6 linked regions of the Homo sapiens genome follow. Changing the gene in region 2 together with the main gene of any one other region gives a genetic interaction. Each region holds a gene or a part of one and is shown on either strand. Other genes may lie near its edges. The genes, in order: FAM98B, SSB, MTOR, BNIP1, CDCA8 and RPP38.

Region 1 (3,500 bases), on a different chromosome or scaffold from region 2:
GAAAGCACTTTTCTGGCTAGAACAGTACTTCTTAAACTTTTATGTGCATATGAATCTCCTGAGGGTCTTGTTAAAATAAAGATTCTAATTCAGTAGAGCTGGAATGATGTCTGGGATTCTGCATTTCTACTCCCCAGGTGATGATGACGCTGCTAGTCCACAGACCTCTCTTAAGCAGCATAGTACTTATTTTTTTACTTTCATTTAAAAAAAAAAACTCTCAATATTTATCATCACTCCTTCTCCTCTTGCAGTACATGAGAAATTACAGCAGGCATTTAAGAGTCTATTTATGCTACATTTAGCAACTGTTTAGTGTTTACCACATTTATTTCATACTGGCTTTGATTTCCAATGCCATTCTGCGTTTACAGAGAATAACCATGCTCCTAGTTTGTTCTATATATTCTTAGTTATTCATCAAAGTGCTACTGTTATTCCAAACACTGGGAACATCTCCCCTAGGCCTAGGCCCTCCCTCAAAGCCTCATACCCTGGAAGCATAGTTGCTGGTCAGACACTACTTCAAGCTGGGTGATCCAAATCTTCAGTCCATTAGGGCTGCTGGCAACTCTCCTCAACAATACAACCAGGGCCTAATTTACTTTCTATTTTCATCAGCCAAGAGATAAAACAGAAGACCCTTTCTTTTCCCATCATTTACCCAACCTATTGTCTTTGCCCCTCATCCAACTCTCTACCTCTCTCTGCTTCCTAAAAATGTCCACTATCTTTCATCTACAACACAGTGGATATTTTGCTATACTGTCCATTTCTTCTCAGAAAGATTATTCCTCTCTTGTTTTCACTCTGGATTCTCCATTTTGGACCCAAACTGAGAAGCCCAGAGCTGCTGCTAGGAGACTGGAGCCAGGGTACCCAAGGGAGCCCATCTCCGGGCGCCCACCCTTGGTACAGGCCACCTCGCTTCGCAGCCCAGGGAGGAAAGGAGAGGGGGTATGTAAACAGCTGTGGGAGTCGGGAGTCTCAGGAGTTGCAGCAAGCCCAAACCCAGGCCCCCCAGCCCAGCCCAGACCATGGGCTCACTGGTTCTTCCACCCAACCAGCCCGCACCTGTGGAATTAGATGGAGCACAGTTCCATCATCACCCAGGCACAGGGGAAGATGCCCTGGTGCTCACCAAGCAAGGCCTGGTCTCCAAGCCCTCCTTAAGAAGCCTCGTGGATATAACATCTTCAAGGCCCTTGTCTGCTATTTTCGCATCCAGCATGGCCAGTCAAGCTCTTCCACTGAGCTCATCCATATAAGGAGGAAGCCAACACCACTGCTAAGTCGGATCTGCTCCAGTGTCTCCAGTACCAGTTTTATCGGATCCCAGGGACGTGTCTGCCCCAAGGTGACAGAGGAAGATCAAAGGAGGATCTGTGTGGTCACTGACCTGGATGAAGCCCTTGTGCATCTTTAAGCCCAGCAACAATGCTAGCTTCACAGTGCCTACAGAGATTGAGGAGACCACTCAAGCAGGTTTCTGTCCTCAAAAGAGCTCACGTGGAAAGAGACGAATGAGAGAACTCTTTGAATGTGTTCCCTTCACTGCCAACCTGGCCAAGTATGCCAACCCTGTGACGGATCTGCTGGCCGGTGTGGGGTGTTCCGGGCTCACCTATTCCATGAGTCCTGTGGTTCCACCAGGGCTGCTAAGTCAGGAACCTCAGCCGCCTGGGGAGGAACCTGAGGAAAACCCTCATCCTGGACAACTTGTCTGCTTCTTACATCTTCCACCCAGAGAATGCAGTGCCTGTGCAGTCCTGGTTTGATGACATGGCAGATACTGAGTTGCTGAACCTGTTCCCAGTCTTTGAGAAGCAGAGCAGAGGACATCTATACCAGCCTTGGGTAGGGGCAGGCCTCTTAGCCTTCCCTGCTTCCAAGCAGTGGTCATCCCAGTAAGGGTCTTTCCTATGCTGTGCCTTTAGGATCACCTGACGGACAGAGTGAAAGCTGGAGGGCCTCACCACATGGGCCTGGAAATAGTGAGAAGTGATTGTAAGGAGCTTTAGGACAGCTTAGATGCCAAGTAGGCAAATGCCAGACCAACAATACCCAGAACTACCTGCTCCCGAGTTGTTGGGTTCCCGAGATGTGTGTGTGAGTGTGTGTTCTGCCATGAACTGTGGCCCCAGCATATAGCGTTTCAGTGGGGGAGAAGCTGAAAGACTCTTGGTCTTTCAAGTCGTCTCCTCTCCTGTCACCCTAAAAGCCACTGAACTCTACAGGGATGAAGACTATTGAAGACTCCATTGCCAAACCATGACCTTTCCTCAGTGTTATAAAGCCTATGCCAAGGAAAAAGGAAGGGTATGCCTTTGGGTGCTCCAGGTACACACCTTTCCAAAATCTTTCTCCAGCCAGCTGCTGCAGACAAAAATAAGACATTTCTGGGAAGATGAGGACTTGTTTCCAGGCCAGTACCCCAGTGGCCATCAGGTCTTGTGGCCCAAAAGCTACGCTTGCCTCTAGCTAAGTGCCTGGCATGGGCCCTTTCTGTGTCTCCCCAAGGTTGGGTACTGAGCTCCCTTCTTCACCATCTAGCCATAGTCTCGAACCTATGGGGAAGGAGGTTTTCTCCCCACCCTGGAAGAGAACAGATTACTGATTTCTGTTCTTTTGACTCTGAAAATTCTCTTTCTTAAAAAAAAAAAAAAAAAGTAAGATTGTTATTCCTACCATCTCTAGCTTTAATTATTTTTATTTTCACAAATGCCTTAAGGTCAGATAGTAGGAGTTTTGGCCTCCTTTCTTACCAAAATAGCATCATTATCACTGCTCTCCCATTATCTTATAAATATCTCCTATTTCCTTGAGGCACAGGCCACTCAGATTTGCCACCCATTCACTTGTGGTTTTCATCTATTACCTCTTGGACACTCCCCAACATCCCCTTTGCTCAGTTTTCCTCTCCACCTCTATTCTTGCCATTACACTGAGTTTCTTTAATGTCTGTATGTATACCCTATCTCACACCCTGAGCTCTCAATTCCAACCTGCACATGTCACTCAGCCCCCCTTGCACCCTTGCCATTACTTACAACCACTGCACCTCCAAAATCACTTATCCAAACATGTGGCTCCCTGACCACAACCTCTTATTTATCCTTCCACTTGCTTCTTCGACCACTCACCTATAACTATTCTTTGATATCATCATTACCTCCATTCATTGATTCCTCTGCATTCTCCATATTTACCAACTCTCTCCTATCTTCACATTCTTCTGTATCCAATTTAGATTCTAAGGTGTATCATTTCATTTTGGTGCTCAATAAATACCAACTGAAGAAATTAATCTGTTGGGGCGTGGTGGCTCACACCTGTAATCCCAACACTTTGAGAAGCCAAGGCAGGAGATCATTTGAGGCCAGGAGTTCAAGACTAGCCCGGGTATCATAACAAGACCCTGTATCTAAAAAATTTTTTAAAATAAAGAGAAATGAATCCTTGAATTTTAATATCCAATCAATCACTAAGTTCAGTAATGT
Region 2 (3,694 bases):
CAAGGGTGGTAAACGCTTGGAAATACAATTTTATCCTTAGGTGGCTTTTGTTTTACAGAACTTCGATATGACCTGCCAGCATCATACAAGTTTCACAAAAAGAAATCAGTAAGTCTCTTGATTTTGGCTGGTCTACATTCGGTATTGAAAAGCTTTCTGGGCCGGATGTGGTGGTTCATGCCTGTAATCCCAGCTACTCGGGAGGCTGAGGCAAGAGAATCGCTTGAACTCAGGAGGCAGAGGTTGCAGTGAGCTGAGATTGCCCCACTGAACTCCAGCCTGCGCGATAAGAGTGAGACTCAGTCTCGAAAAAGAAAAAAAAAGGAAAGCTTTGTGACAAGTAATTATTTCTAGTGTTACCAACTTTCCTGTGTAAATATACAAAGCCAGCCTAGGAGACACCATAAATGGCCTGTGGGAAAGGCCCATCGTCAATAGCTAATATTCTAGTTCTTTCCTAAATGCTTTGGGTACAAAAAGAAAAAAAAAATCAAAAACTGTTTTTGCTCTTTTCATATAGTATATATTTTATTAGTTAGTTTGTACTAATACATTCTCATATTACAAAGGCAATTTAATGGAAGAATCTTCCTTTTGATATTTGAATCATCTGAAATAACACAAACAGAACAATACATTCAAAGAAATCTCATTTGCATAACAAAAAGACAAGTTAAACAACAAAAAAATTTTTCCTTTCTCACAGGTGGACATTGAAGTGGACCTAATTCGGTTTTCCTTTTAAAAGCCCCGCAAACAAAAGTCGTTTAAAACCTATTTAAAATGAATAAAAAATTGGTTTACTAAACTACTGGTCTCCAGCACCATTTTCTGTTTTCTGTTGTTTGGATGCAGGTTCTTCTTTGTCTGTTTCTTCTCTTGCTCTTTTCACAGGTCCTATAACGTAACAATTAATTTTTGTTAAATTCAACGTAAGTACTGCTCTAGTTTAATACTGAGCACAATTACTAATAATGATACTGTTGAAAAAGATGCAACAACTTCCTTGCACCAATGAGAAAAGGCTTTTCTCTTAGTACAGACCTGACCTCTAGATTCATCTTCCAAATATCCTGTCCCTGACTTATACAACAGCATAACCGAGGTAAATCGTTAATAATCCAAGAATGGCACTTATCCAGGAGTTGAAAAGCCAAATCCCTATTCTCTCTGGCAAATCATTTATTTATGGAAGTAGAAATTTTCTCATGAAACTACCAAAGGACTTAAAAAAAACTTACCAGTTGCACCATTTTCATCATGTTCATCATGTTCATCATCACTAGCAAATTTCGTTTTCTTGCCCTGAAACTGTACTTTTCCTTTACCAGACCCAGGCTGGGCAGCTTTATTACCCTTTCCTTTTCCTTTAAATCTACGACCTGTAGAGACACAATTGAGCACTCTGTAAAGAACTTTTTTTAAGTCTCTTGTCAATGTTTTTGAACACTGATTAAAGTTTTTGCTCAAGTAAATGGGTTCAACAACCAAACTGTTAAAGAAAAATCAGAATAAATGACCTTTTGACTTCCATTTGTTTAGGGATTCTTGTTGGTCTTCTATTATTTTCTTCAGTGCTTCTTTTTCCACCTCTCCTTCTAGTACTTCCCAAGTCACTTCTTTGTTCCTTAATTGTAGGTTACCATTATTTGCATCTTTGGCTTTACCCAATGCTTCCTTGGCTTTTTCTTTAAATAGAATTATCCCCTATACCAGAGACAGAAAACAAAAGCCATACCCTTGGTTTTTAGTCCCACAATTAATTTCTTTGTCCAAAGTAATTTTTTCTACCCTGCAAACCTTCCATGTCTTTACCAGTTTGAATGAATTTTACTGAACAGTAGAAAAGGAATGCTACAGAAGTAAAACTGCAATCATCAGTATGAACAGTTATTCATAGTATAATTCAGAAACTATCAGACATCACATATAGTGACAATAACAACAAAGTAAATGATCAAGTAGAAACTAATTTAGTATAATTCAGAAAATATCAGACATCACATCTAGTGGCAATAACAAATGATCAAGTAGAAACTAATTTAATAAACACAATTTTTAAAATTACTTTCTACTAATTTTGTCTAAGTTTCTACAGATTTTCAAACTGATTGCTAAAAAGGATAGGGATGTATCCAAACCTCTTTTGCTCCTCTGACGAAGTCTATCCATTTTATTTCACCATGATTTGAGAAAAGTATGTGTAAATCTTCTCTACAGGTCTGATCATCTAAATCACCCGAAAATTTCAGCAAGCATCCAATCTTTTCTTCTAGAGATTTCTATAAAAATATACAAAGTGATCAAAAAGTTTCTTAAAAGCAACAACAGACCAGAAATGACTCACACCACCTTATAGCTATACAAGAAAAAGACTAGAAACCAAAATGCTATTTTAAAGTAGTTTCTTCCGCCGGGGCAGCAAGAGCGAAACTCCATCTCAAAAAATAATAATAATAATAAATAAATAAAGTAGTTTCATAGTGTTGGTGTTTTCCTTTGTCATCCTTTATTCCAAAATGGCTTTCAATATTATTTGATCTCTTATACAACTGGTATTTAATTAGTTATAAACTACATAAATCTGGCTATTAAACTATCTTGGAAAATAATTCTAGGCAGTATTTATCATACTTTAAAAAATTTTTAGGCCGGGCGCAGTGGCTGACACCTGTAATCCCAGCACTTTGGGAGGCCGAGGCAGGCGGATCACCAGGTCAAGAGATCGAGAGCATCCTGGCTAACATGGTGAAACCCCGTCTCTGCTAAAAAAAAATACAAAAAATTAGCCGGACGTGGTGGCAGGCGCCTGTAGTCCCAGCTACTCGGGAGGCTGAGGCAGAAGAATGGCATGAATCTGGGAGGTGGAGCTTGCAGTGAGCCGAGATCGCGCCACTGCACTCCAGCCTGGGCAACAGTGAGACTCGGTCTCAAAAAAAGAAAAAAAAAAATTTTATAGTCATTATTTTCCCCAAATAAAAATTTTTACCTGTAACTTTCTAAATGGAAATACACATCAGTATCTTATTAAGTCAAAAATAAAAGTCATGTTAGTATTAACCTATGATTAGAATCTTTAGAAGTTATAGGACATTTTCTCATAAAAATAAGTTCTAGGCATAAATGAACTTTTTCTGAATATTTCAAAATATATTTTCCTGTGTTTTATTATATTTTTTATTTTTAAACAGGGTCTCACTCTGTCACCCAGGCTGGACTGCAGTGGCATGATCTTGGTTCACTGCAACCTCCGCCTCCTGGGTTCAAGTGATTCTCCTGCCTCAGCCTCCCACATAGCTGGGATTACAGGCATGCACCACCACGCCTGGCTAATTTTTGTATTTTTAGTCAAGATGGGGTTTCACCATATTGGCCAGGCTGGTCTCGAACTCCGTGCCTCAACTGATCTGCCCGCCTCGGCCTTCCAAAGTGCTGGGATTACAGGCGTGGGCCACTGCACCCGGCCTTTTCCATATTTTAGAACATATTTCCTATCCTTAGTTTTCTCTTTTCCCTCAATATAATACCTGATGTATTACTTAATGCAATAACAACTATAGATAGCTTTGCTTACGTATTTTCTTGAAAAAGTCCTCAGACTTAAAAGCTATTCATTTAACTTCGAATTACAGATGTACTAGATAGCAGTAATATATACTTACCATTTCAGCATCTTCTTCTAACTTTTGTTTTG
Region 3 (3,500 bases), on a different chromosome or scaffold from region 2:
AAGTCAGTAACCTAAGACAAAATGTAATGTTAAATTGTAGACTCCTCTGGGTAGCTGAGTTAACCTGAGCTCTGTGACATCTGCTTTTGTCACTGCTCATCGATTTCCTTCTGGCAGCTTTATCCAGAAATCTGTCTATATTATGCTGTCTATGTCACCATGAGCAAGATATGCTGATTTGCTGGTGTCCTAAGGATGTCAGCTAGAACCAATGTGTTATCTCCAGTCAGTAAGGCTTCGGGGGATCCTGCCAGTGTGATCCCCACCTATTGAGGTTTATCTAGATATGCCCCAAACAGCTACAGAGTATCAGCACTTCTCTTGGCATCATAGCTGTTCTAACTGTTCTTTGATTCCTTTGCCATTATTTGTAGTCTTCAGTAATTTGCTGTCTGGACAAAGATTTTTCTCCCAAGGGGCCCTACCTTCTTTCCTCATTTTTATAGAACCCTACTCACAGCTCTCCCTGTTGGTTTTCTCAGTCTTCTCTGGCTGTGCTACATGGTTAAAAGCTCTGCTTTAGAGAGGGCCATGGGACATTGGAGTGCTGTGATAAAAGGAAAGGGAGCAGGTTTTCGAATAGTTTTTCTTCCTGTCACAGCTGTATCTAAGGCTGTTCTGCCTGTTGCAGAAAAGTCTGTTGCTCATTGAGTATCTAGCAGCTACTTCATCTGTCGTGGAGGTCTGGGTTTTTCCCCCAGTTCCCTGCCACTTTTTCTGTTGGACACAGTCTCTCTCTAGAATGTCTTCTGCCATAGAGAACATATGAGCCTTTCTTCCCTACAGATTTTGACAGAGTTGGAGCACAGTGGGATTGGAAGAATCAAAGAGCAGAGTGCCCGCATGCTGGGGCACCTGGTCTCCAATGCCCCCCGACTCATCCGCCCCTACATGGAGCCTATTCTGAAGGTAACACAAACCGAGAGGCTGGTGCTTTCTCTGTGCGTTGTCATCAGCTCATATGGGGAGATGGGAGTGTTTCAGTGTTCACTAGTACACTGAACAAAGTAGGTGATTTCTTTGCTCTCACGCTTGGAGACCAAAGGGCCATATCAAGCACTTTCAGTTAAAGAATACCAAGAATCTTATCAGTTGCAGGAAAGTGCTGTCCTTACAAGAGGTAAGAGTTAATGCTTCAGGCACATCATCGCAGATGTTTGGAAAGGAGAAGTAGGTAGATAGTAGCATAAAATAGCTCGCCCAAAATGAGGAAAAAATGAGCTTGAAAATCTGAAACAACCTTCAAATCTCAACACATTAGAGTCACGTGAAGTCCTTTATAATGTATGTTAATCTGGATGAACAATCACTGAGACTCGGTTTAGAGGAGACATGAGAAATACTTTCACATTATGGTGCTTCCCAGCTCTCTCACATGTCAGACTTAGACTTCATATGGAGAAAAGTTTGAGAATTTACATTCCAGAGAAATCTTGGATTCATAAAGCCTAGAAGGAATTTCTTTATGACTGAGATGGTCTCTTGGGTGAATTTTACTTATATAAAAGAAAGGTTTCTAGTAGAGTCTAATCTGCATTCATTTTCTCATAACTTCTTTCTCTAGGCATTAATTTTGAAACTGAAAGATCCAGACCCTGATCCAAACCCAGGTGTGATCAATAATGTCCTGGCAACAATAGGAGAATTGGCACAGGTAAAGGGGCAGCTACTTTTTCCATAGCGGAGATAGGGTGGAAAAGAAACTAACCTCTAAGGAAGTCAAAATACTATTTTTTTTTTTAAATGAAAGGTCTCACATATTTATTGCGGAACCCAGCCAACAATGCATTCATAACAGATTCAGAGAGAAATAATATATTCTCAATAAAACATGTCCAACTCTCCAGATAGTGGTGACATTTTCAGCTTGATATGGTAATATCATTGTGACCTTCAGACAGCATAAATGTGTGTGCCATCTCATGTGCAATTCCTTATAGACCCTGCTTGGTTCTTCTCCAGTGTCTTTTTTTGGAGTTGTACCTGGTTTTATTACCAGTTTTCATCCGAATCCACTGGGGAATGGGACGATTTTACTTTTGTTTCTTGGCCAGGAATTGCTTAATTCTGAAAGTCTTGTGAGAAGAATGGCAAGAATCAGAGTCAGGCACACACCATGATGGTGGAGAAAGGAAGAGAGGGCTTTTTTAAAAAAAATTTTTTATTTTATTTATTTGTTTTTGAGACAGTTTCACTTTGTCCAGGCTGGAGTGCAGTGGTGTGATCTTGGCTCACTGCAACCTCCATCTCCTGGGTTCAAGTGATTCTCGTGCCTCACCCTCCCAAGTAGCCGGGATTACAGGTGTGTGCCACCACACCTGGCTAATTCTTGTATTTTTAGTAGAGATGGGGTTTTACCATGTTGGCTAGGCTGGTCTGGAGCTCCTGATGCCAGGTGATCTGCCCTCCTCAGCCTCCCAAAGTGCTGGGATTACAGGCATGAGCCACCGTGCCCGGCCTCCAAAATACTTTCTAATGCCAGAATTTCTAACCCTTTCTGCCACCCTCTTTTTCATTTTGCAGGTTAGTGGCCTGGAAATGAGGAAATGGGTTGATGAACTTTTTATTATCATCATGGACATGCTCCAGGATTCCTCTTTGTTGGCCAAAAGGCAGGTGAGTATTACTGCTTCCTGATTGAGCAAGACAGACCCCATGAGTCCAGGGACTTTGCTTCTCTTTATTCACCTTAGTGTCCTCACCCAGTGCCTAGAACAGAGTGTGACACATAGTAGGTGCTCAAAAATATTTGTTGAATGAGTAAAAGTTAGAAAGATTTGAAACCAGAATTACCTGTTGTCCTGACCCAGAGTCAGTTTCAGTAATTATCGGGGCTGACTAGTGCCATTTTGTCTATACAAAAGAAAATGCAGGTCAATTGTCAGAGCCGTAGCTCTCAGAGGGAAAAAGAAAGCCTTGGCCACTGCCTATGAAGGAACAGAAGTTTAGCTCATCCTTGCCCAGCCCTGGTTCTGCTTTCCCAATTTGAGGCTATTAGATGACTAGACTAAAATTAAGAACAGTCTTAATTTATTTCTGGGCATGGCAGCTCACACTTGTAATCCTAGCACTTTGGGAGGCTGAGGCAGGAAGATTGCTTGAGCTCCAGAGCGAGAGCAACCTGGGCATGATGAGACTTTGTCTCTACTAAAAAAAAAAAATAGCTGGGCATGGTGGCATGTGCCTGTAGTCCCAGCTACTTGGAGGCTAAGATGGGAAGATCACTCGATTCCAGGAGATTAAGGCTGCAGTGAACTGTTATCACACCACTGCATTCCAGTCTCCAGTGAGACCCTGTCTCAACAACAACAAAAAATCTTAATTTCCTTTTGAATCTCCTGTTAATCATTTGGGATATGGAAGAATGATGTGTTTTCTTTGAGAAAGGTGGGAATTTTCTTTGTCTCTTGATCCAGTGATTGTTGCAGGGTTGTGTGCTTGATCAACCTTGGTTTTATGCCCTTTTGGGATTTCTGCTCATGGTTAGTGTCTTTACTGGA
Region 4 (3,500 bases), on a different chromosome or scaffold from region 2:
AAAAAAGACACCATTAAGTCAGCATTAAAGCAGATCCATCAGGCAAACACACGTGCAAGGCTCACAGGCAACAAGAAGAGCCAGCAGAAGCCGCTGGCGGGGGCAGGCCCTGCCTACCTGAGCATCTGCTTTTTGTGATTCTCCACTTCCTGGAGTAGAAGTTGTTTCTCTGATTCTTTGTCTTGCTCTTTAGCCAACTGCTCCAGGTCCTTTGAGGAAAAATAATTCCATGTTAAAATGATTTCAAAAGTCAACATGAAAGCAGAAGAGCATTTCTATTTCTGCCAAGGGCATACAATAGCACTTGAAGCACCCTTTTAAAACAGAACACCTAGGAATGCTAGGTAACATATAACACACATCCTTTTAAATCTATAGCTAAGTCCACAAGGAAGTAAGGAAAACCCCTATGGCCCAAAAGTGGGAAGGGAACAAGAGCTGGAATAGTCAGCCTGGGAGTGATGCACGGCTGTCCTGGCGTCAGAGCTGCTGCTCCTGTCACCTAGGGCAGGCCCGAAAGGAAAAGAAAAACAATGACGAAATACAAGCACACTGATCCCCCACTTAGATATCATTAAAATATCAAACTGCTGTTCATTTCCAGATACTCACAATTTCTGTGCCTATTTAATTAAAGACGAGTAATAGGCAGTTTGAGCGCTTGAAGGTTTGAGAGCTCGTGCAGGGACAGAAAAATGAAGCCCTGAGCCATCTGAGGCTGAGGTTGAGAAGCTGAACTGAGATCACCACAAATCTAAAACCCACGAAAGGTTACAGACACAGGAAAATGGTATAAAAAAATGTCCATCTACCAGCACAGAGGGAAAACATAGATGCTTGCCTTTTTTTGCTATGAGTTCCAAATAGAGGGGTTAAAAAAAAACTCCCCTGAGAATTTATAACCAACCAGGGAGCTGCTCCTTCCACTGATCTAGGGTTCAATTTATCTTCCCTGAGTGGTTCGTGAAACTCCATGAAGAGAAATGAACATAAACAGTGTTCTCGGCCGGGCGCAGTGGCTCACGCCTGTAATCCCAGCACTTTGGGAGGCCGAGGCGGGGAGATCACGAGGTCAGGAGATCGAGACCATCCTGGCTAACATGGTGAAACCCCATCTCAACTGAAAATACAAAAAATTAGCCGGGCGTGGTGGCGGGCACCTGTAGTCCCAGCTACTCAGGAGGCTGAGGCAGGAGAATGGCGTGAACCCGGGAGGCAGAGCTTGCAGCAAGCCAAGACTGCGCCACTGCACTCCAGCCTGGGCGACAGAGAGAGACTGTCTCAAAAAAAAAAAAAATGTTGTCAGACTTGTGATCATCTCAGGAGACCTGGCGGGAAGCTAATGCAAAAACCTCTGTAGAGACTTGGCCTCGACCCAGCTGCACAAAGTCCCTCAGATAAGGTCTGCTAAGATGAGCGCTCACAGTCCAAAATAACCTAACACCAAGGAAATAACCCACTATAAGTTAGGGTCAGCAGACATACCCAGAAGTATTAAACCCCAAGAACTTCAGATAAAAGAACCATCAAGAGGGACTATAATTAAAGATAGCATTATACCAATCACATTTTTTGGTTTACAAATTAAAACAGGTTCTAGCTTCAATCACGCTATTGATCTGAAACATCAATGTATTTGCTCATTTATATACTAATTTACTGATTTACGTATCAATTTGCACATACTGGTTTGGAACAAGTTTGTGTATCCACCATTTCAATAGCACAGAGATGACTTTCAATTTATGCCTCCAAATATTGCTGAGGTAGAGAATAAAAGAAATAATCAACTGTGAATTAGAAAAGTTTTGCAAATGTCATCAATTATTTTCATAATTATTTGTTTAAAATCTGTATTCCCTATTAGAATGTAAATTCTATGGGCTGGGCCTGGTGGTTCACGCCTATAATTCCAGCACCTTGGGAGGCCAGGGCAGGCAGATTACGAGGTCAGGAGATCAAGACCATCCTGGCTAACACGGTGAAACCCCGTCTCCACTAAAAATACAAAAAATTAGCCAGGCGTGGTGGCGGGCGCCTGTAATCCCAGGTACTCGGGAGGCTGAGGCAGGAGAATGGCGTGAACCCGGGAAGTGGAGATTGCAGTGAGCCGAGATCGTGCCACTGCACTCCAGCCTGGGCAACAGAGTGAGACTCCGTCTCAAAAAAAAAAAAAAGAATGTAAATTCTATGAATAAGCAGAGCTGTATCTCACATTATTCACTACATATATTCCTTGTGCCTGGCACATACTGGGCACTGAGTCACTGAATGGAAGAATGAACGCATGGGAAAAGCGGAGGGATTAAAAAGGGGGAGAAATGTACAATTTACTCATGAAAGATTGCCTGGAAGTTCTTTCAAAGAGAACCAGTGATAGTTCTGGAGAAAGGAATGGCGGGGGAGAGCAGTCCTCAAATTCCAGTTTGAGAGCTATATGTACAAAGACAAACACACAGATATTTATACACAGTCAGTGCCCAAGATTCACCATGTGCAGAACACCCAGTTTTGAGGATATGAGGCCAGTTCTCTAGTATCACATGATCTTGTTGGAAATACACAAAAAAGACATTCAAATAAAAGCTAAAAATGGCAAACAAACAGGAATCTTGTATTTATTTCCAGATACAAAAAGAGTATGTAAATACTTAAGAAACGCAGATTAAAACTGGGATGGGGTTATTCATTTACTGGCCATGTGCTTATTAGGTCCTTCCTAGGTGCCATAATAAATATGTAAATGTACACGTATTGGTGAGGTCATTTTAATGAGTGAAGGAAATAAACACTGGGTGGGCACCCAGATGTTTAAAAAGAACATACAAATACTCACACTGAAGGTAACAGGTGTAGTTGGAGAGTTGAAGTCATGCTGAGTTGAAGAAAAGTCTGTCAGGGAATAAGTTAGCTTAAAAAAAAATGTGGAAGCAGTCCAAATAAATGCCCTTTGATAGAGAACTGGCTAAAAAAAAAAAAAAAAATGACAGTTATTTAGAAAAGAATGAGAGACCAGGTGTGGTGGCTCCTGCCTGTAATCCCAACACTTTGGAAGGCTGAGGCAGGCAATCACTTGAGTCCAGGAGTTCAAGTCCAGCCTGAGCAACATGGCAAAACCCTGTCTCTATAAAAACTACAAAAATTTGCTGGGTGTGGTGGCGCACGCCTGTAGTCCCAACTATTTGGGGGACTGAGGCAGGAGGAAAATCGCTTGAGCCTGGGAAATCAAGGCTGTGGTGAGCTGAGATTGTGCCACTGCACTCTGGCCTGGGTGACAGCCCAAGACCCTGTCTCAAAAAAAGAAAAAAAAAGAAAAATGAGGACAGTCTCTGATTACTGAAATGGAAAAATTTCCAATATACGTATAATAAAATTATACTTAACAGTATAAGTTTTGACCGGGCGCGGTGGCTCACGCCTGTAATCCCAGCACTTTGGGAGGCTGAGGCAGGCTGATCACAAAGTCAGGAGATCGAGACCAGCCTGGCTAACACGGTGAA
Region 5 (3,500 bases), on a different chromosome or scaffold from region 2:
TTCTTTCTGTACAACAAGGAGTTTTGAAAGGTACTCACTTTTGGCAGATTTCAGGGGTGTCTGAATAGCTTCTGCTGTTAGTTTGTTTATTTCGGTGATATCCAGGTCAGCCTATGACAAACATAGCCAGAAAGCACCAGGCTTATTCCACCAAAATATGAGGAACAATATTTCAAGATAAAAACTTTTTTAAAACTATTATTTAATACATAAGACTGTTAAATGTTAGTGATACAATATACAATATAGCAAACTCCCATAAACCCACCACACAGCCCAAGACCTAAAACATTGCCAATAACTTGCTTCTGGCTCTGTATTCATTCCTTGTTCCATTTTCTTATCTCTTCTTCCAAAGGTGATGAGTCTCCTAATCCTTCATTCCCCAGGGGTAACCATATCATTGCACTTGCTTTATCGAAAGGTACATGTGTATGTGCTCACAGATACATGCATATGTGTGTATACATGTGTGCACACACAGATGTGCTTTTTCACAAGTGTGTACTTAAGCATTTTGTTTGGTTTTGGCTGTTTTCACCACTCTTTGTGGTTGTAGTTAATTTGTTTTCATTGCTATATCATATCCCACTGTGTGAATATACCACAATGGATTTGTCCATCTTCCATCAATAGTTTCCTGCTATTATAAACACTGCTACCTTGAACTGTCTTACATGTGTCTGAGGTACATGTCCAAGTTTCCCCTTGGCTCTATCCTTTGGATAGGACATGACAGGGATTATAGGTTACATAAATATTCAGCCTTCGCATTATGCCAAATTGTTTCCCAAAGTGGTTACCCTTGACTACAGCCCATCTGCAAACAATACAAGTTCCTAATGATCTACATCCTCTACAACACTTGGTGGTGTGTCAAGCTTACCATTTTTTCGATAAATCTACAGGGTCTCAATAAGGTTTTCTATGATGATCCTGGGTCCTTCAAAAAGGCTTCCAGTCACCATTCAAATTCGTTTTTTTTTCATATGGTAATAAGTATGGGCACTACAAAGAGCAGTCATGATTCACAGTCCTTTCCTTATAGAACACATGTAAACATCAGAATAATTACTACAGGTTTGGAATGGCACAGGTTTCATTTCTGGTAGGGACTGCTTGACATACTCAGAGAAGGATTCTGAGGCTGTCTTAGGCTTAGCAAGAAATAGGGCTGTAATAAGTTACTGATGTTTGCCAGGCTTGATGCAACAGAAAGTAGGGGCATTCCTGCCAACCTTCTGCCATCTCTAGAAACAACTGGCATTTTATGGAGTCATCAGTGGTGGCAGGCCACTGGGCATCTACTGTGCAGGACAGTTAACAGAGCAGGCCTGAGACTGATACACATAGAAAGGCCTGTTTGCAAGCCTGGCCTCGGTTGGCATCTGGGAACTTGATTTCAGAAAGATTCCCACCTTTCCTTAACAAGATGCCTCACTGTGCCTAAACTTTATGCAAACAATATGGCTCATGCTGAACACCTACTTCCCTCCTGAAAGTCTAGGATTTTGACATGTGCTAGGCAGAGGATGCCTATGTGAGCAGCCCCCAGTTAAAACTCTGGGCATTGACTCTCTAATCAGATTTTCTGGTAGACAGCATTTCATATGTGTTGAATTAAGCATGTTCTGTTTGACTCTACAGGGAGTGGACTCCTAGAAGCCTGGTTTCCTCTGGACTTTGTCCTATGCAATTTTCTCCTTTGTTGATTAATGCTTTGTATACTTTCACTGTAATAAATCATCGCCATGGGTGTGACTGTATGCTGAGCCCCATGAATCCTCCTAGTGAATCACCAAACCTGGAGGTGGTCTTGGGAGCCCCAACACACTTCCCAACTAAGAGCTTTTATAGATTTTCTATCGTTCCTTTCTGGAGTTTTAAATCATATTAGTCAAGGCTAGAATTCTCTCAACTTGGTGTGGTAACAATGGCTCTCTCATATTACATTAGAAGTTCTCATTTGCAGTTCTGTATTTCTAATTTAAAAAGAGAGAACTGCATTAGCTAGTAAGCATAATTCATCTCAGAGGTAACTCTTTTAAAACATTGGAGCTCAGTGTATGTAGGGGGGTGAATAATCCCCACCTCTCTCCCAAATGCTCCAATTTTTTCCAAATTGATAATTGGCTCCTCATTACCTTTACCTTCTGAATGAAGCTGGCGGAGATCTGCTATGTGCCCTTGGTGGTCAGACTCCTTCAAACCCTGATATTCCAAATGATTCTGATCAACTCAACAAAAGATGTAATTTTGGGGTTTACTTTGTAAATCTGATCAAGGCTACAATAAACTAACAGAAAGATACACAAATGCGTGCATACACACGCATTGTTTGTATATTATTTTAGAGTGCCTAGGGACTCTGTGAAGCCCATGTATGGACTAGTTCCCAATGCTGTCTCATAAAACTTTCTGCAAGAGTAGCAATGTTCTATTTCTGTGCTCTCTGATGGAGTAGCTACTAGTCATATGTAGGTATTGAACATGTAAAATGTGGCTAGTATGTCTGAGGAAATGAATTCTTTAATTTTATTAATTGTAATTAACTGAAATAGCTACATATGCCCAGTGGCTACTACACTGGACAGTGCAGCTTTAAATGCTCTATTTTGCATCCCCATCTTACTGCCTTCAATCCTGGCACTGATGCTGGGAGGAAGGAGATGAGAGGGGTTGGGGAATACTGAGCATCCCAAGCAAAAGCACTGCTTCTACAGTACGACATGATGAAACACCTTTATCATCTAGCAGGCCAATGCATAGTGTAATGACTCAGGCGCTTAAAGGAACTTGGGCTTGAGGCTTTCTACTTCCGCTGTAGAGTTCAGAACAAAGGACTGCAAGAAATTGGTCAAAAACAGAACTGCCACCTTCTGTAGGGCTCAGAACTATCTGGGTCTCATGTATACAGTGTCTGGTCCAACTCTAATTTTTCAGTTGACACAAACAGATGATGTCCCTTTATGAAACCTCTTCCACAGTAAGCATCTATTAGTTGGATCTGGGGACTGGACTAGACTTAAGTAACCACTGGCTGGAAAATAGGAAAGGTCACTTACTGTTGCCGCCTCTTCCAGGGCCTGTTTGTTTCCTCCAAGGGCTTTAAAAAGAACGTTGTAGTTACTATTACATTTTAACAATAAATCATCTTGCCTAATAGTACCATTTATCTTTCTAAAACTGGTCCAGCCCTTGGTCTAACCTTCAAGGACCTTCACCATCTAATCTATTCTTTCTCCAAGTTATATCCCAAATGTGCCACTGACTCTCATGACTTGTTGCCATGGTACTTTGTATTTCCTCTGCCTGAAATTCACCTCCGTACTTAACAAATTTCTAACTCATCCTTCAAAACTCAGCTCAAACATCACCCCAAAAATTCTGCTTATTTTTCTTTTTAAAAAATATATTTTAAATTTTATTTATTTTTGAGACAGAGTCTTGCTCTGTCACCCAAGCTGGAGTGGAGTGGCGCCTCCTTGGCTGTCTCCTGG
Region 6 (2,201 bases), on a different chromosome or scaffold from region 2:
TGCATTGCATCTGGATGAGCCACTTTTCTTCCTGATTTCCTGAGCTCTAGGGGAGCATAGAGATAATGGGGTCAGGGGACACAGTGTGGCCACCGTGAAGGAAGCAGCTTAGGCCCCAGAAGTCTCCAGGATTGCTGTACCGAGATGACCAGGGTGTGATCTCTCACCCTAAGGAGCTGAATTTGGCTTTTCTGTGGGAAAGTGTCTGGGAAGAATATCAGAGACCAATAGCGCTCAGGGGGCCCTTTCTCGGGGCTGTCCAGTGTGGAAACACCCTGTCCTACACCAGTGGTTCCTGATTCCGGCTCTGAATCAGATTCACGAGGGCAACTTTTTTTTTTTTTTTGATATGGAGTCTTGCTGTCGCCCAGGCTAGAATGCAGTGGCGCGATCTTGACTCACTACAACCTCCGTCTCCTGGATTCAAGAGATTCTCCTGCCTCAGCCTCCAAGTAGCTGGGATTACAGGCAGGCACCACCATGCCTGGCTAATTTTTTTGTATTTTTTAGTAGAGACGGGATTTCGCCATATTGGCCAGGCTGGTCTCGAACTCCTGACCTTATGATCCGCCCGCCTTGGGCTCCCAATGTGCTTTGGTTACTGGCGTGAGCCACTGCACCCGGCCTGGGGCAGCTTTTTATAAGCACAGATGCCCAGGCCTTATTATTGAAGATTCCAATTCAGTAGATCTGGGTTGAGGACCAAGCATCTGCATGTTTTAAGAAGCCACAGGTTATTTTTGAGGTGTAGCAAGGATTGAAAGAACAGAAAACTTGGATTTGGAAAACTAGTTGTGACTTTAGGCAGTGAGTCAGTTTCCTAATGCACACATTGGGGGATTCTATAGGAATGCTGTAAGAAGCAAATAATACATGGAGAGAGTGCTTTATACAGCGATACACTGCACAGACACACTTGCCTTCAACATCAGCTGCCAGCCTAGTAAGTGGTAGTATAAATGCAAAGGATATAACTTCCTTTAGTTTTGCCAGGTGGGTCCCTGTGATTCTAGCTGAGCCCCAGGAAGGAAGGGAAGAAAACTGAGGGAAGAGAAGGGAGTGTGTAGTTGCCTCTGGGAAGGATAAAAGGATATGCCCTCTGGACCAATAGTTTATAACATTTTCCCCATTAAGCATCCTTCTACTCATTTTTCCTCAATGGATTAGTATCTTTAAATTTCATTACATTTCCCTAGTCTTCATGGAATTGCCAGCCAGAGAAGTCAGCTCGGGGTCCCCCTAAAAAGGAGGACTGGCCGGGAGTGGTGGCTCGTTCCTGTAATCCCAGCACTCTGGGAAGCTGAGGTGGGTGAATCACCTGAGGTCAGGAGTTCGAGACCCGCCTGGCCAACATGGTGAACCCCATCTCTACTAAAAATACAAAAATTAGCCAGGCGTGGTGTTGGGCACCTATAATCCCAGCTACTCCGGAGGCTGTGGCAGGAGAATCGCTTGAATCTGGGAGGCAGAGGTTGCAATAAGCTGAGATCATGCCATTGCACTCCAGCCTAGGCAACAAGAGCAAAACTCCGTCTCAAAAAACAAAAAAAAGGGAGTGTATGCCTGCATATGTATCAAATGCTGTAGGAAGGATATTCAAGAAATTTAGGGCCCTGGGAGGTGGGGAGACTTACAAAAGTGGACGTGACAGTGTTATTTGAAGTTTTAATCATGAGATGACTGTTCAGTTCTTTAAAATATCACACCTGATTGGTTGTGAATGGCAGAGGCCACCAGAGTATTTGCAGATTGGGAGCTCTACGTGGGTGGACATCGGGTCTTGCTTACTGTGAGCCCCAGGACCTAGAACACCACTTGCATACTGGAGGTGCTCAGATCATTTTTTTTTTTTTTTTTTTGCAGACAGGGTCAGATGTGTTACTGGGCTGGAGTGTGGTGGCACAATCACGCTCACTGCATCCTTGACCTCCTGGGCTCAAGTGATCTTCCCACCTCAGCCTCCCAAGTAGCTGGGACTACAGGTACGCCTCACACTTAGCTAATTTATGTATTTTTTGTAGAGGGTTTCTCCATTTGCTCAGAGTGGTCTCGAACTCATGGGCTGAAGTGATCTGTCCACCACAGCCTCCCGAAATTCTGAGACTGAAGGCATGAGCCAGTGTGCCAGGCCTAGAATATTTGTTGAGTGAATGCATGGAAGCCCAACTAGATAGCATTTTGGAAAACAGTAACAAGTTAGA

The links.
Region 1: changes in SSB (region 2) and FAM98B together harm fitness more than expected from each alone (negative genetic interaction), as found in Homo sapiens cells (one large-scale study listed by BioGRID).
Region 3: changes in SSB (region 2) and MTOR together harm fitness more than expected from each alone (negative genetic interaction), as found in Homo sapiens cells (one large-scale study listed by BioGRID).
Region 4: changes in SSB (region 2) and BNIP1 together harm fitness more than expected from each alone (negative genetic interaction), as found in Homo sapiens cells (one large-scale study listed by BioGRID).
Region 5: changes in SSB (region 2) and CDCA8 together harm fitness more than expected from each alone (negative genetic interaction), as found in Homo sapiens cells (one large-scale study listed by BioGRID).
Region 6: changes in SSB (region 2) and RPP38 together harm fitness more than expected from each alone (negative genetic interaction), as found in Homo sapiens cells (one large-scale study listed by BioGRID).

What each region holds. Positions count from the first base shown.
Region 1 is NC_000015.10:38,457,127-38,460,626, reverse strand, and holds part of FAM98B (protein FAM98B), read right to left. Parts: intron 2,069-3,500; exon of another isoform or gene 887-2,068; intron 1-886. UniProt on the Homo sapiens protein: Positively stimulates PRMT1-induced protein arginine dimethylated arginine methylation.
Region 2 is NC_000002.12:169,808,871-169,812,564, reverse strand, and holds the end of SSB (lupus La protein), read right to left. Parts: coding exon 3,663-3,694; intron 2,283-3,662; coding exon 2,142-2,282; intron 1,708-2,141; coding exon 1,521-1,707; intron 1,383-1,520; coding exon 1,242-1,382; intron 898-1,241; coding exon 809-897; 3' UTR 746-808; coding exon of another isoform or gene 707-745; 3' UTR 501-706; downstream 1-500. Other genes in the region: rRNA N(6)-adenosine-methyltransferase METTL5, read left to right, coding at 59-108, 707-745. UniProt on the Homo sapiens protein: Binds to the 3' poly(U) terminus of nascent RNA polymerase III transcripts, protecting them from exonuclease digestion and facilitating their folding and maturation.
Region 3 is NC_000001.11:11,231,552-11,235,051, reverse strand, and holds part of MTOR (serine/threonine-protein kinase mTOR), read left to right. Parts: intron 1-786; coding exon 787-909; intron 910-1,564; coding exon 1,565-1,654; intron 1,655-1,738; exon of another isoform or gene 1,739-2,142; intron 2,143-2,523; coding exon 2,524-2,616; intron 2,617-3,500. UniProt on the Homo sapiens protein: Serine/threonine protein kinase which is a central regulator of cellular metabolism, growth and survival in response to hormones, growth factors, nutrients, energy and stress signals.
Region 4 is NC_000005.10:173,151,031-173,154,530, reverse strand, and holds part of BNIP1 (vesicle transport protein SEC20), read right to left. Parts: intron 2,966-3,500; coding exon of another isoform or gene 2,837-2,965; intron 210-2,836; coding exon 118-209; intron 1-117. UniProt on the Homo sapiens protein: As part of a SNARE complex may be involved in endoplasmic reticulum membranes fusion and be required for the maintenance of endoplasmic reticulum organization. Also plays a role in apoptosis.
Region 5 is NC_000001.11:37,695,516-37,699,015, reverse strand, and holds part of CDCA8 (borealin), read right to left. Parts: intron 3,107-3,500; coding exon 3,066-3,106; intron 112-3,065; coding exon 39-111; intron 1-38.
Region 6 is NC_000010.11:15,100,355-15,102,555, forward strand, and holds part of RPP38 (ribonuclease P protein subunit p38), read left to right. Parts: intron 1-1,863; 5' UTR 1,864-1,982; intron 1,983-2,201. UniProt on the Homo sapiens protein: Component of ribonuclease P, a ribonucleoprotein complex that generates mature tRNA molecules by cleaving their 5'-ends. Also a component of the MRP ribonuclease complex, which cleaves pre-rRNA sequences.